Homo sapiens: one gene and its partner. The protein of the gene in region 2 interacts with the protein of the main gene of each other region in a pairwise test. Each region holds a gene or a part of one and is shown on either strand. Other genes may lie near its edges.

Region 1 (7,417 bases), on a different chromosome or scaffold from region 2:
GCTCCTTGAGAAGCTAGAACACATAAAGACCCGTGCCTATAGGAAATATTTCTTTCTTTTTTTTTTTTGGAGACAGAGTCTGTCTCCGTCGCCCAGGCTGGAGTGCAGTGGTGCGATCTTGGCTCACTGCAAGCTCCGCCTCCTGGGCTTCCGCCATTCTCCTGCCTCAGCCTCCGGAGTAGCTGGGACTACGGGTGCTTGCCTACACGCCTGGAGAATTTTTTTTTTTTTTGTATTTTTGGTGGAGACGGGGTTTCACCGTGTTAACCAGTATGGTCTCGATCTCCTAACCTCGTGATCCGCCCACCTCGGTCTCCCAAAGTGCTGGGATTACAGGCGTGAGCCACCGCGCATGGCCAACTATAGGAAATGTTTCTAAAGAGATCTAAAATTGACAGTCAAAAGGTTATTATGAAAGGCTGGACTTAAATTTTTTCCCCGTAGATACTAGGAAATACACAACTTATTAAGTTAAAGTCTACGCTTACACTTAAGTCACATTTTTTAAAAAGCCACTAAAATCCCATGCTTTAATGATATTAGTACACAATTCAAAACACTGTACCACGGTATCCCCTCACTGGTACTCAGAACACAAATGAAACACATCTTGATAAAGTAAATACCTTCCTATTTGGAATGTGCAAGACATAATTTACTAAGTTGATTCTTTTCAACTATTAGGGACTGAATTTTATTCTCAAAGAGATGATCACAGAACATGAGAATTAAACAAACCTTCCTATAAAAGAAATGGATGCTTTTATTCAACCTGAGTTAAAACCACAATGAATCATATCAGAGTTCATGGGAATCATAATAAATGACTAGTAAACCACTCACAAAATCAAAGCTATCAACATACTAGGATCACACACATTAATTAGTGCTATAGTTCAAAACATACCCTTTAACTTATTTAGCACGCAAAATAATCATAAAAGTAATGTCTATAAGCTCTAACCAAAAATTTTAAAAATTAAAAATAGCACAATTCTACAATTCTGATTTTACCAAGAAAATAAACCTTTTTTGGCACATATTATCCTATGAAAATGGAAAGCTGAGTCAGGCTGCTCTGCTTTTCACAGCACAAATAAGCATTCATGCTATCAGACTTGGGAAATTAACTCGGTGACAAAAATTCACTGGAAAATAGAATCCTTGGAAAAATGGGGTCAGGTGCCATCCACTGTGAGGCAATGATAATGTGTGTCCTTCGTTATTAGCACAAAGTTAGGCAGCACACTATAATTTTAGCTACATGCAACTCTATAGGAACACATGTGGGTAAGGCCTGAAAGTTACAAGCAAGAGTGAAAAGAACTGCTGTGTTGGGACTGAGGAATGATGGGTGTTTGTTTTTCTTTAAATGTCATTTCACCTTTTAAAGGAAAATAAATCAAGTAGGTAGGTAAAAATTACTGAACTAAAGAGATACTAAAGATCAGAAGACTGGCCAATTGAGAAAATCAAGTTTCATGATTAAGAGTGACTCAGGAAGGATGTCTTAGTTATGAGGGGGGTGGTGGAAGACAGTTTATATCTTTGGGTATTTATGGCAGGTCAGAATTAAAGATTTAACTTTTTCCCTTACTCTTTACATAAAAAGCTGGTTTATCTGAAAAAAGTATCAATCTAGACTTGGCAATAAAGTGGCACTTAGGCACTATATTATTGATATCTACAATGACCTCCTGGATGCACAAGAGACCCTGAAGGGCTTTTTTGATCAGCAAAACAAAAACAGAAAAGCAAAAAACAGTTAATTTTTGTTTGGTCAAGTTTACTCAACCAGACCACCTTGATACCAACAATGCTGGAGAGCATTTGGCAAGAGCAGGGCCACAATGCCAAATTCCTTGGAAAGGTAGACTTCCTATGATACTTTCATGGATTGGCAAATTTGTGGGGTTTTTTTGGTAGTAGCTTTTGAGAATGTTAGTTTCTGGCTGGGGTAGTGACTTACATCTGTAATCCCAGCACTTCGGGAGGCGAAGGCAGGTGGATTGCTTGTGCCCAGGAGTTTGAGACCAGCCTGGGTAACATGGTGAGACCCCATCTCTATTTTTATAAAATTAAAAAAAAAAAAAAAGATAGAGAATGTTACTTTCCTATAAAGCCATGATACCCTAAGTACTAAGACATGTCTGTTGTTGTCCTTTCCTTCATAACATTTCTCATAACCCGTAATTTACTTCTCATCTGTCTCCCCTAAAAGGGCAGGGGCCTTGTCTATTCTGTTCATTACCATATACCCAGCACTTAATAATGTCTGGTACATGTAAGTGTTCAACAAATATTAGTTGAATGAATAAATGAAGTATGAATGAATCTCATACAGCTCAACAGACCTGGGGGAAAAGTGAAGACAAACAAACAAACAAACAAAAAAAAAAACAAAACCCTAAAAAATACTTAAGGAAGACAGATAAGCAACAGTTCTATCAGTTGGGGTTATGAGACTTGATGCCAAAAAATTTACCATCATTCACAACTGACAATGGTTGTTCAGAGATTCAAAATATCTGAAAGATTTCAACTGAAAGTTAATATAAAACAGTGTTCTCTGGAAGACTCATGTACAAATAAGTTAATTAAGGGCCTGTTACTAAACCAAGATACAACAGGAGCCTAATGTTTTGTTTGTTTCAAGATGGAGGAGACTCTGCTGCATACACTTGGAGGTCTAGATTTCCATAGAGGGCACGTAGCATATTGAGGACCTTTTCTTGAATAGTGTCAACTTGGTCAGAAGGACAGTAATCATCCAGACTTGACCTAGAACCAACAGAAAGAGAAAGAAGAAAAATACACATAGGATAAAATCATACTGTGAGGAAAAGCTGCATGTGTTCATTTCAATGTAAAACAGAAATTAAGGTGTGCTGAACTTTGGATTAATATCAATTGAAAGCTAGTGAAGGTTTACCCCATGTTAGTCACCTTACATAAATTATGTTCTTTAATTTTCACAGCAACTCTATGAAATAGGCACAATTACTATCCCTTTAAAGAAATCTGAAAGAGATTAACCTGTGCAAGGTGACATGCGGTGTGTGCCTTAATGCTTGATTGCTAGACCATTGTTTGCCTGAAAGTGAGATGTTGCTTGGGAATACAGGGGCTTATTATCTTAGCGATGGAACATCTTTTATTATGTGTGTGCTAGGGCTAGAAATGATGAGGGTCGAGGTTTTCCAACTGATAAAAGGATCCTATTTCTAAAAATGATTTGTTAACTACAAAATTATAAAGGATCCATGGCTTGGTCCAAAATGAAATGTGGCGATGTGCTGGTGTTGGATTTACTTTCCTAGGCAGTAGGAAGCAGAAAAGAGCAAAGTAGGTTGGGGCAGATATCTGTATTTTGGGAGTCTTTCCAGAACTTACCAACTGCAACCTGAGTTGCACTGGGCAGTTACAATGCTGCTGCCAGTTACAACTGGATTAACCAGTGTCTCCTGGTTCCGGATAAGGGTGAATAAAGCCTTCTAGAGGACAGAGTGAGAAGAGCAGCACAGAAATCTTTATAGAAGAACTGGAATTAGTTATCTGGCCTACTCCTTAGTACAAGTATTTCAAACCTAAAGAGATAATCTGTAAGACCACTGATAAACTCATTTTACGCTCTAGTGACCAGGTTATTTACCTACAGAGATTGTATTAGTTTCCTACTGCTGCTATAAAAAATCACCACAAACTTAGTAGCTTAAAGCAACACTAATTTATTATATAGTTTTGGAGGTCAGAAGTCCTAAAATAAAGGTGCTGACAGGGCTGCATTCTTTTTGTAAGATCCCAGGGATAATCTGTCCCCTGGCCTTTTCTAGCTTCTAAAGGCTGCCTGTGTTCCTTAGCTTGTGGCCTCCACCTTCAAAGCCCGAAGTGTAGAATTTTCGAATCACTCTCTCTGATTCTGACCCTCCTGCCTTTCTCTTCTAATGACCCTTGTGATTACACTGGGCCCACCTGATAAATCCAGGATAATCTCATCTCAAAATCCTTGAGTTAATCACACTGCGAATTTCCTTTTGCCATATAATGTAACATATTCACAGGTTCCAGAGATTAGGATGTGCACATCTCTGATTTGCCATTATTCTGCTGAACACACTTACCTTGCAATTGTCACAAGAGTAGGATTTGGTAAATTTTTCAGCAAATAATGCACAGATTGAATAAGACACTCTATTTCTTGTTCTGTGCTGATATGGTGAGGAAGTTCTGAATAATCGCAGGTTAAACCAGCCTGGTGAACCTGAAAATAAGACAATTAAAAATTACACTGTATGACAGTTGTTTTTATAAGCTTCTTTAATCATTAATGGCCTTATTGACAAATCTTTACTTTTATTGATACATAAAAGATGTGCATATTTTCAGGGTACATGTGATTCATAATAGCATATAAAGATCAAATCAGGGTAACTGGGATATCCAACACCTTAAATATGAAAAACTTTTAATTTTTAATATTTTTATGCATTGGGATTATTTTTTCCTTAACAGTTTCTATGTCATAAAAGTTATCTGCTCTCTGAAGTGTTGGTAGAACTCGCCTATATGCCTGTCTGGGCCAGATGCCTCTTTTTAGAATAATTCTTTAACTACTTCATTGGGCTTGGGTCAATTTTGGTAATTCACATTTTCTATCAAATTATCCATTTCATCTAGATTCTAAAAAGTTGAGGCCAGGCGTGGTAGCTCATGCCTGTAATCCCAGCACTTTGGGAGGCTGAGACAGGCGGATCACCTGAGGTCGGGAGTTGGAGACCAGCCTGACCAACATGGAGAAACCCCGTCTCTACTAAAAATACAAAATTAGCCGGGCGTGGTGGCACATGCCTATAATCCCAGCTTCTCCTGCTAAGGCAGGAGAATCACTTGAACACGGGAGGCAGAGGTTACAGTGAGCCAAGATCGTGCCATTGCACTCCAGCCTGGGCAACAAGAGCGAAACTCCGTCTCAAAAAGAAAAAAAAAAATTGTACATATTCTTATCTCATTTTTAACACATTATTTTACTTACTTTTTAAATATTAATATGTGCACCTAGTACTACATTCAAAGCTTTGAGAGGATACAAGAGAAAATATTTATCCTACCTTATTTAACCAAACTGTTTTCTTGTGTATCCTTTATGTATAACCATAAGCTACTGCTATCTACCTATGTGTTTTAAATTTGAATGGAATATGTTCTAGTCTTAGCACTACACTAAACTTGCCTGAAAGTTAGAAGTGGCTCACATGCTACCATTCTGCAACCTTAACTTTAATGTTTTGAAAACTGGAACTTAACTATGTCATAGTTTTGCCTAGAGTACGCAAGTGCAAAGTATGAAAAAACACACTAATCAAATATTTTATTGGAGGCTTTGGATACACATCAACAATTTAACTGGCAATGATCAGTCAGTGTGATAAAAGGATGAATTCTGGATGTTCATTTTGCCAAAATGATAAAACTATTTAGCGTTCTATCTCTGCAGCTGTAGGGCATATCATAATGGATTACATAATCTGTGACTGAGCCCTAGCCATTCCCTGCCCCCCAAAAAACATCAAACCCACCCAACGAAAAAAACCCAGATGCAATGTAATGATTAAAGCAGACCTGCCTGCAGACATATTTGATAATATTGTATGAATTCAAAGCATTTTCTTTCTCTTTTTAAATTTGACACAAAGTCTCACTCTGTTGCCCAGGCTGGAGTCCAATGGCAGGATCTCAACTCATTGTAACCACCCAGGCTCAAGCAATCCTCCTGCCTCAGCCTCTCAAGTAGCTGGGACTACAGGTGTGCACCACCACACCTGGCTAATTTTTGTATTTTTTGTAGAGATGGGGTTTTGCCATGTTGCCCAGGCTGGTCTCAAATTCCTGGGCTCAAGCGATTTACCTGCCTTGGCCTCCCAAAGTGCTGGGATTACAGGTATGAGCCACTGCTCCTGGCCTCAAAACATTTTCAAACCTTAAGTATCTTATAACGATCTTCTTAATTACCATTTTTAAAAAGTGTAAGTCTTGGAAGTGTTTATTCAGGGCAATTTGAATATATGCTCCCAGGGGAAAAAAAAAAAAGTTAAACAAAAAAGTTTAAGTCTTGGATTTGCTTAGGTTTCACCAAAATATTCTTTTGCTTTGCTCATTATATGGTTTGGCTGTATCTCCACCCAAATCTCACCTTGAATTGTAACTCCCACAATTTCCATGTGTCATGGGAGAAACCTGGTGGGAGGTGACTGTGGGGGTGGGTCTTTCCTGCACTGTTCTCATGATAGCGAATGAGTATCAGGAGATCTGACAGTTTTATTTATTTACTTTTTTTGAGACAGAGTTTCACTCTTTTTGCCCAGGCTGGAGTACAATGGCATGATCTTGGCTCACTGCAAACTCCACCTCCTGGGTTCAAGCGATTCTCTTGCCTCAGCCTCCCGAGTAGCTGGGATTACAGGGATGCGCCACCACGCCCGGCTAATTTTGTGTTTTTCATAGAGATGGGGTTTCTCCATGCTGGTCAGGCTGGTCTCGAACTCCCGATCTCAGGTGATCTGCTCGCTTCGGCCTCCCAAAATGCTGGGATTACAGATGTGAGCCACTATGCCCGGCTGGAGATCTGATGGTTTTAAAAACACAAGTCTCGCTGCACAAGCTCTCTCTTCTTGTCTGCTGCCATGTGAGATGTGCCTTTCACCTTCTGCCATGATTGTGAGGCCTCTCCAATCATGTGGAACACTAAGTCCATTAAATCTCTTTCTTTTGTAAATTGCCCAGTCTTGGGTATGTCTTTATCAGCAGCGTGAAAACAGACTAATACAGTAAATTGGTACCAGTAGAGTGGAGCACTGTTGAAAAGATACCTGAAAATGTGGAAGCAACTTTGGAACTGGCAGAGGTTGGAACAGTTTGGAGGGCTCAGAAGAAGGCAGGGAAATGTTGGACAGTTTGGAACTTCCTAGAGACTTGTTGAATGGCTTGGACCAAAATGCTGATAATGACATGGACAATGAAATCCAGGCTGAGGTGGTCTCAGATGGAGATGAAGAACTTGCTGGGAACTGGAACAAAGGTGACTCTTGTTATATTTTAGCAAAGAGACTGGTGGCATTTTGCCCCTGCCCTAGAGATGTGTGGAACTTTGAAGTTGAGAGATGATTTAGCATATCTGGTGGAAGAAACTGCCAAGCAGCAAAGCATTCAAGAGGTGACATGGGTGCTGTTAAAGGCATCCAGTTTTTTTTTTTTTTGAAATGGAGTCTCGCTCTGTCACCCAAGCTGGAGTGCAGTGGTACCATCTCGGCTCACTGCAGCCTTTGCCTCTCAGGTTCAAGCGATTCTCTGCCTTAACCTCCTGAGTAGCTAGGATTACAGGTGTGCACTGCCACACCCAGCTAAGTTTTGTATTTTTAGT
Region 2 (6,013 bases):
CACAATAAATGGCTGTAAAATCTCCTGAGGCCTCAGAGCTGCTCTGTTTTAGATATGCGCCATATCCCGCACACACATCTGCACGGACACACATGCCCACATGCACCCTAAGACGTACATACACACTCACACGCACCCTAAGACACACACCTCACTGTAGCCACTCAGCTAGACACAGGACAGGCACCCCATCACACTCACATGCAAAGTCCACACACACACACACACTCCCCCCTTTCACACACAGATATGCACACACAGGCAGTACACACTCCCTACGACATGTAAAAAAGGCATAGCCAGCCGGGCACAGTGGCTCATGCCGGTAATCCCAGCACTTTGGGAGGCTGAGATGGGAGGATCACTTGAGGTCAGGAGTTCGAGACCAGACTGGCCAACATGGTGAAACCTTGTTTCTACTAAAAATACAAAAATTAGCAGGGTGTGGTGGCGCATGCCTGTAGTCCCGGCTACTTGGGAGGCTGAGGTAGGAGAATCACTTGAGCCCTGGAGATCTAGGCTGTAGTGAGCTGAGATGGCGCCACTGCATTCCAGCCTGGGCAACAGAGCAAGACTCCATCTCAAAAAAAAAAAAAAAAAAAAAAGGCACAGCCAGAGAGCCAATGCGCGCGCGCGTGCACACACACACACACACACACACACACACACACACACGACCCACACTGCTCTCCCAGAGGCTTGTGGATGGTGGTGACAAAGAGCCTGAGTACTGGGACAGGCTAAATGGCATGTGAATCACAGAGCAGCTGCCTGGATGACCTCGGGCAATCACTTTCCCTCCCTAGACCTGTTTTCCCATCAAAATAATGGGGACAGTAAGCCTCTTGTGGTCATGAAATGACACCCCCAGATGGGGTGATGTTCTACATGTTTAATCGCTGGTAAAGACCAGGCATCAATAGAGAAAGGATGACAAGTAGGGGTCCTGGTGGGCCCTGTGGGCAGGGTGAACCCTTTAGCCCCAGACTGTGGGGAGGGGAAAGGGGACAGGGAGAGGGGCACTTCTGAGCCAAGGCAATGGCCCTTTACTGACTGGCACAGGGCACCATAGGGCACGGTTAATTCTGTGCGCCCCGCCCGCTCTCAGCCGTCTTAAGGCTGAGCCTGCCAACCCGGGACTCTAAAAGGCTGTGTCCAGGGCCTCAACCTCCTCACATTTCAGAGGGGACCCTGTTATCCCCGGGAGGAGGGAGAGGTCCCCAACCATCAGGATTCCAAGGAGGAGAGGAGGCAGAGAAGCGAGGAGCGCGGCACGGAGCTGTCTTCTCCCCAGGGAGGGCAGGAGTTGAGGCTGGAACGTGGAGACCTGCGGAGGCAGACACCAGAAGACCCGCGCACAGACGCACGCAGCCCCTGGGGCCTCGTAAACCGGATTCCAGGCGCTTTTGGCCTGGCTACCGCAAGTCCTGCTCCCCCTGGGCCGGCGCGGGGAAGCTATGCTGAGGAGGATCCGGGCCTGGCCCAGGGCCCTGCCTCCTCGGGAAAACAGCACCATATTAGCACTTAGCCTGTGAGGCTGGGGTGGGCGGGCGGCAGGAAGGGCCTCGGGTGCCAGAGGAATGAGCCCCCTTTTTGCTGGATCCCAGAGGGCCATCACCCTAAACCTAGGTGCCTGTCCACCACTCTGCGCATGTGTGCCGGCTCCTGCCAGGGCTAGCAGACCTTACCTGGGATCTTGGAGGTGGCGGGATAACCAGGGAAGACATGTCATGGCAGAGTGGGCCTGAGGGGGTGCACAGGCCAGACCCAGCAGCCCAGTCTGGCAGCCAGGGCTTCCGGGCCAGCTCAATGTCTCCCCCCGCTGTTCACATCCGTCAGTGCCCTGGGTGGGCCCCAGAGCCGCTCAAACCATGCCTGGCACTTCCATCCTCAGCATGGCTCCGGGAAGAAGGTGCTTTCATCCCCTGCACTGTAGCAACGAGGACTCTGAAGCACAGGTCACCTGCCACCCGGGCTCATGAGGCCAGGTGGAGGGTCTGGCACTGCCCCAGGTTGCTGGGTGTTGTGGTCCTTGTCACCGGTGCGACCAGCTAAGGGGACATCAGCCCTCAGGTGCTCCCCATCGGCCACACACATCCCGCCCCAACACCAGCCTTCTGAGAGTCCTCACCACCCTTGAATAAAGGCCCCTTTCATGTTTCCCTCCCGTGTCCCTCTTCCACTCACTACCTCCAGAACGGCCTGTAAGCTGTTCCCTCAGCCTGGACTCTGGGCTCACAAGAAGTCAGACTGTAAGCTGTGGAGCCTCGTTTCCTGGGTTCAAATCCCCCCTGTGCCACTTTCTGGCTGTAGGGTCTTGGGCCAGTGACCTCCTTCACCTCTAGCCTCTGTTTCCTCATCTTTGAACTTGGGGTTAGCTTGGCACCTGCCCCACAAAGTGGCTGTCAGGACACTGGGGCGACGCAGGAAGGCCAGAGGTCAGCGTCTGGCTAGAGGTGGCCCTACGGTGTCACTGTCTCAGCCTGCCCCTCCCAGAAGCCTCCTCTGACCACCTGTTCTGTCTCACCTCCCCCATTTCCTATTGTGACTGCTGTAAACACCTGGCCAGATGTCTGCCTGCTCCACCACCCTGAATGCTTACTGACTGAATAAAACGCTGGGTGGTTTGAAGGGCTGGTCACATGGGCCACCAGGCCACCTCCCGAACGTCAGAGCCTCAGGTCCCCTCTCCTTCTTCTGGTGACCAGGCAGACGCAGAACCCAAGACATCACGGACAGCAAGGGATGTGCGCTGGCTGCTTTATTTAAGGGCTTGTGATTGACAGCTGTCCCCATCCCAGCCCTTGCTTCCTCTACAAAAGCAACTGAACATGAAACGGGCTTCCTGGTTACCATGGGGAGGGGGGCGGCTCCCTGTCAGGGCCCAGCCCAGGGACCTGGGGAACGGCGGCTTTGAATCCCCGGCCACGGGCACTAGAAGGTGGAGAAGGAGAGCGGGAAGTCCAGTTGAGATGGGCACGGTGCTGGTGAGGAGGCTGGAGAGGTCCTGTTCCAGCCTCTAGTGGGCTTCCCTTGTCCAGGATGTCAGGAAACAGTCCCCCAATTCCGCCGGGGGGAGCCAGAGCCCCAAGGCTGGGGGGCCAGGGGCTGCAGGGAACACAGCAAAGGCTTTCGGAGCCAAGTGAGATCAGTTCAGGCCCCTCAGGCCCAGGAACCCGACACCACCGCGTACCTGTGAGCACACACTCACGGCCACCCCAGTGACACGTGCAGCCACACACACCCACACTCACTCACACCCACACCCACACGCACACCCACTACACACACACACACACACACACACACACACACACACACACACACACACACGGCTGTGACAGCCCAGGACCCACACCCTGGACCCCTGGAATGTCTCTGGACCAGAACCGAACAGCTGGATCCACAGTACGCGGGGCTGCTCAGGGGGCGGGTCCTCTGTGTCGCTACTGATTGGCCGCCTCGCAGGCGTCTATCCAATCACTGTACACATCCACGGGTTCTGACAGATCTGGGCCACTTAGGTCAAGGGCGATCATTGGCATTGGAACCCTGCCCTGCATCTTCTCACCCCACAGAAATCACTAGGTGGCACCTGTTCCTCTGGACGGCTTTGGCCCTGCACCAGGGCACACAGTGGGCCAGATGAGCAGGGTCCGGACTCCAGCCCCCTCCCCACCCTCTGGAAAAAGCCCAGGTTTCCAAGGATACACGTTATGGGCGTCTGGAATTCCTCTAGGCACACGGTACAAGAGATGACTCCGGTGTTGCGGGCACGGTCCCTGAAACAGACCAAGAGAAGGGACTGGTGAGCAATGCGTCCTGGGCCTGTGGGTGATGACGCCTTCACCAAGGGAGGCAAGGGGCAGGATGGAGAACAGCGGGGAAGAGGCAGTGGGGAGGCTGGATCCCTTGCCCTGTTCCCCACTCACATTTTCACATCACAGGATTTCTCGTGGTTGCAGAAGGGGCAGGTGAACTGGGTCTCGAGGGTGCCTGTCATCTTCTTCTTGGGAGGCGGCTTTCGTTTTGACTTTCTGCGCCCCATGTCTGCAGGTGGATGAGCCTGTGGGGAGTGGCAGATGTCAGTGGTTTGAGGAAACCACGCAGCGCCCCAGCTCAATGCTCTAGAAAGCAGGCCGGAAAGAGGGTCTGGGACTTGCACCGTGGTCCCGGGGCCTCTGCCCTTGAGGGACGAGGCCCTCAGTCCTGATGCAGGAGGACAATTCCCTGTCCCACTCTGGATGGAAGGGGTGAGACGAGGCTCTAACCCCATCTCTCTCACTTACTGCGTGACCTGGGCAGGTTATTTAAGCTCTTTGTGCCACAGTTTCCTCGTCTATAAAACAGAGACAAGGCCAGGCATGGTGGCTCACACCTGTGATCCCAGCCAGCACTTTGGGAAGCTAAGGTGAGAGGATTACTTGATGCCAGGACCTGGATACCAGCCTGGGCAACATAGTGAGGCCTCATCTCTAAAAAAAAAAAATTAAAAATTAGCCAGGCATGGTGGTGCAGGCCTGTAGTCCCAGCTACTTGGGAGGCTGAGATGGGAGGATCGCTTGAGCCCAGGAGTTTCAGGTTTCAGTGATGATCCAGAGTTATGATCCAGGCACTGCACTCCAGCCTAGGCAACAGGATGAAACCCTGCATAAAAAAAAAAAAAGAAAAAAAAAAGGCCAGGTGTGGTGGCTCACACTTGTAATCCCAGGACTTTGGGAGGCTGAGGCGGGCGGATCACGAGGTCAGGAGTTCGAGACCAGCCTGACCAACACGGTGAAACCCCATCTCTACTAAAAATACAAAAATTAGCTGGCCATAGTGGCAGGCACCCGTAACCCCAGCTACTCAGGAGGCTGAGGCAGGAGACTCACCTGAACCCAAGAGGCGGAGACTGCAGTGAGCCGAGATCGCACCATTGCACTCCAGCCTGGGCAACAGAGCAAGACTCCGTCTCAAAAAAAAAAAAAAAAAAAAAGTCGAAATAAGGTTGCTATCTCAGAGGAGACTTGTGGGGCTGACACCAGGAATGGTAAGTTAAGTACTTAGCACAGAGCTGGCCCATCATCGCTGGCGCCAATACAAGGAAGCCACTGTTCCTGGGGAGGGTGGCACAAGAGACTCCAAGACAAGCCAGCTGTTCAGGGCCGGGTGGAGCCTAAGAGCCTAGGAACTGGTGATTTTATTCTGGCTGCTCCTCTTGGCAAAGGACATGTAAGTACCATCCAGGAGGAGTGACACTCAGGTTATCTGATGGCCTCGATCCAGATGACAGACTGCAGGGCAGAGAAGTGGGGACAGGCACTTCTGAGTAGAGGAACACTGTGTGAAGGCTCAGGGCAGCTGTCCGTCCCCTGGCAGGTGAGGGAGAGAGGAGGGACAGGTGGGAGGGTTCTGGGTGTTTGGATGGATCCTGGGAGCTACAAGGAGTGAAAGGACAAAGTCACCCTGTGCTTTTGAGGAACTGCGGTGTGAGCCATAATCTGGATGAAGACAAAGTCACAGCCAGGACAGGGCTGTTGGGGTAGAGATGGCAGAGGGTGAGAGAGACAGAGGAGACATGGCGGCAGAGTGAGTGAGTGTGACGAGAGAAGGAAAGTCCAGGATGACTCCCAAGGTTGTGGCGGGGACATAGTGGCTAGAGGGACAAGGTGGCATCATTCTCTGATGTCTAACACATAGGAAGGACAGGGTTTTGGAGAAAATGATGGGGTTGGGTGGCAGAGGGATATCTAGGAACAGATGTCCAGGAGGCAGGTGGGTGGGGAAACGGCAGCAGTTACCACTGAGCCCAACTCCCCTGCGAGGCACGGTGCTCAGGGCACTGTGTTTGCCATCCCTGAGCCTCCTATGGCGCCTCCTCCAACACACACACACACGACTGCTGGTTCTAGCATCGTTCCACTGTGACGGGGAGGTCAGCAGCCTGCCAGTGTCTTCCAGAATAAACAGTGGAGTTTCATTCATTATCTGCTGATCACTTCCTATGTAATACCCCCAACTCTTTCTTTTT

The links. Proteins that work in one complex are often made in the same cells at the same time.
Region 1: the proteins of ELOF1 (region 2) and C5orf22 interact in binary tests that used the Homo sapiens proteins (3 or more experiments, as listed by UniProt).

The regions. Positions count from the first base shown.
Region 1 is NC_000005.10:31,548,137-31,555,553, reverse strand, and holds the end of C5orf22 (UPF0489 protein C5orf22), read right to left. Parts: intron 7,065-7,417; coding exon of another isoform or gene 6,867-7,064; intron 4,262-6,866; coding exon 4,122-4,261; intron 2,782-4,121; coding exon 2,652-2,781; 3' UTR 501-2,651; downstream 1-500.
Region 2 is NC_000019.10:11,550,300-11,556,312, forward strand, and holds the end of ELOF1 (transcription elongation factor 1 homolog), read right to left. Parts: intron 5,277-6,013; exon of another isoform or gene 5,046-5,276; intron 4,955-5,045; exon of another isoform or gene 4,875-4,954; intron 4,067-4,874; 5' UTR 4,049-4,066; coding exon 3,933-4,048; intron 3,783-3,932; coding exon 3,712-3,782; intron 3,512-3,711; coding exon 3,447-3,511; 3' UTR 2,747-3,446; downstream 1-2,746. UniProt on the Homo sapiens protein: Factor involved in transcription-coupled nucleotide excision repair (TC-NER), a mechanism that rapidly removes RNA polymerase II-blocking lesions from the transcribed strand of active genes.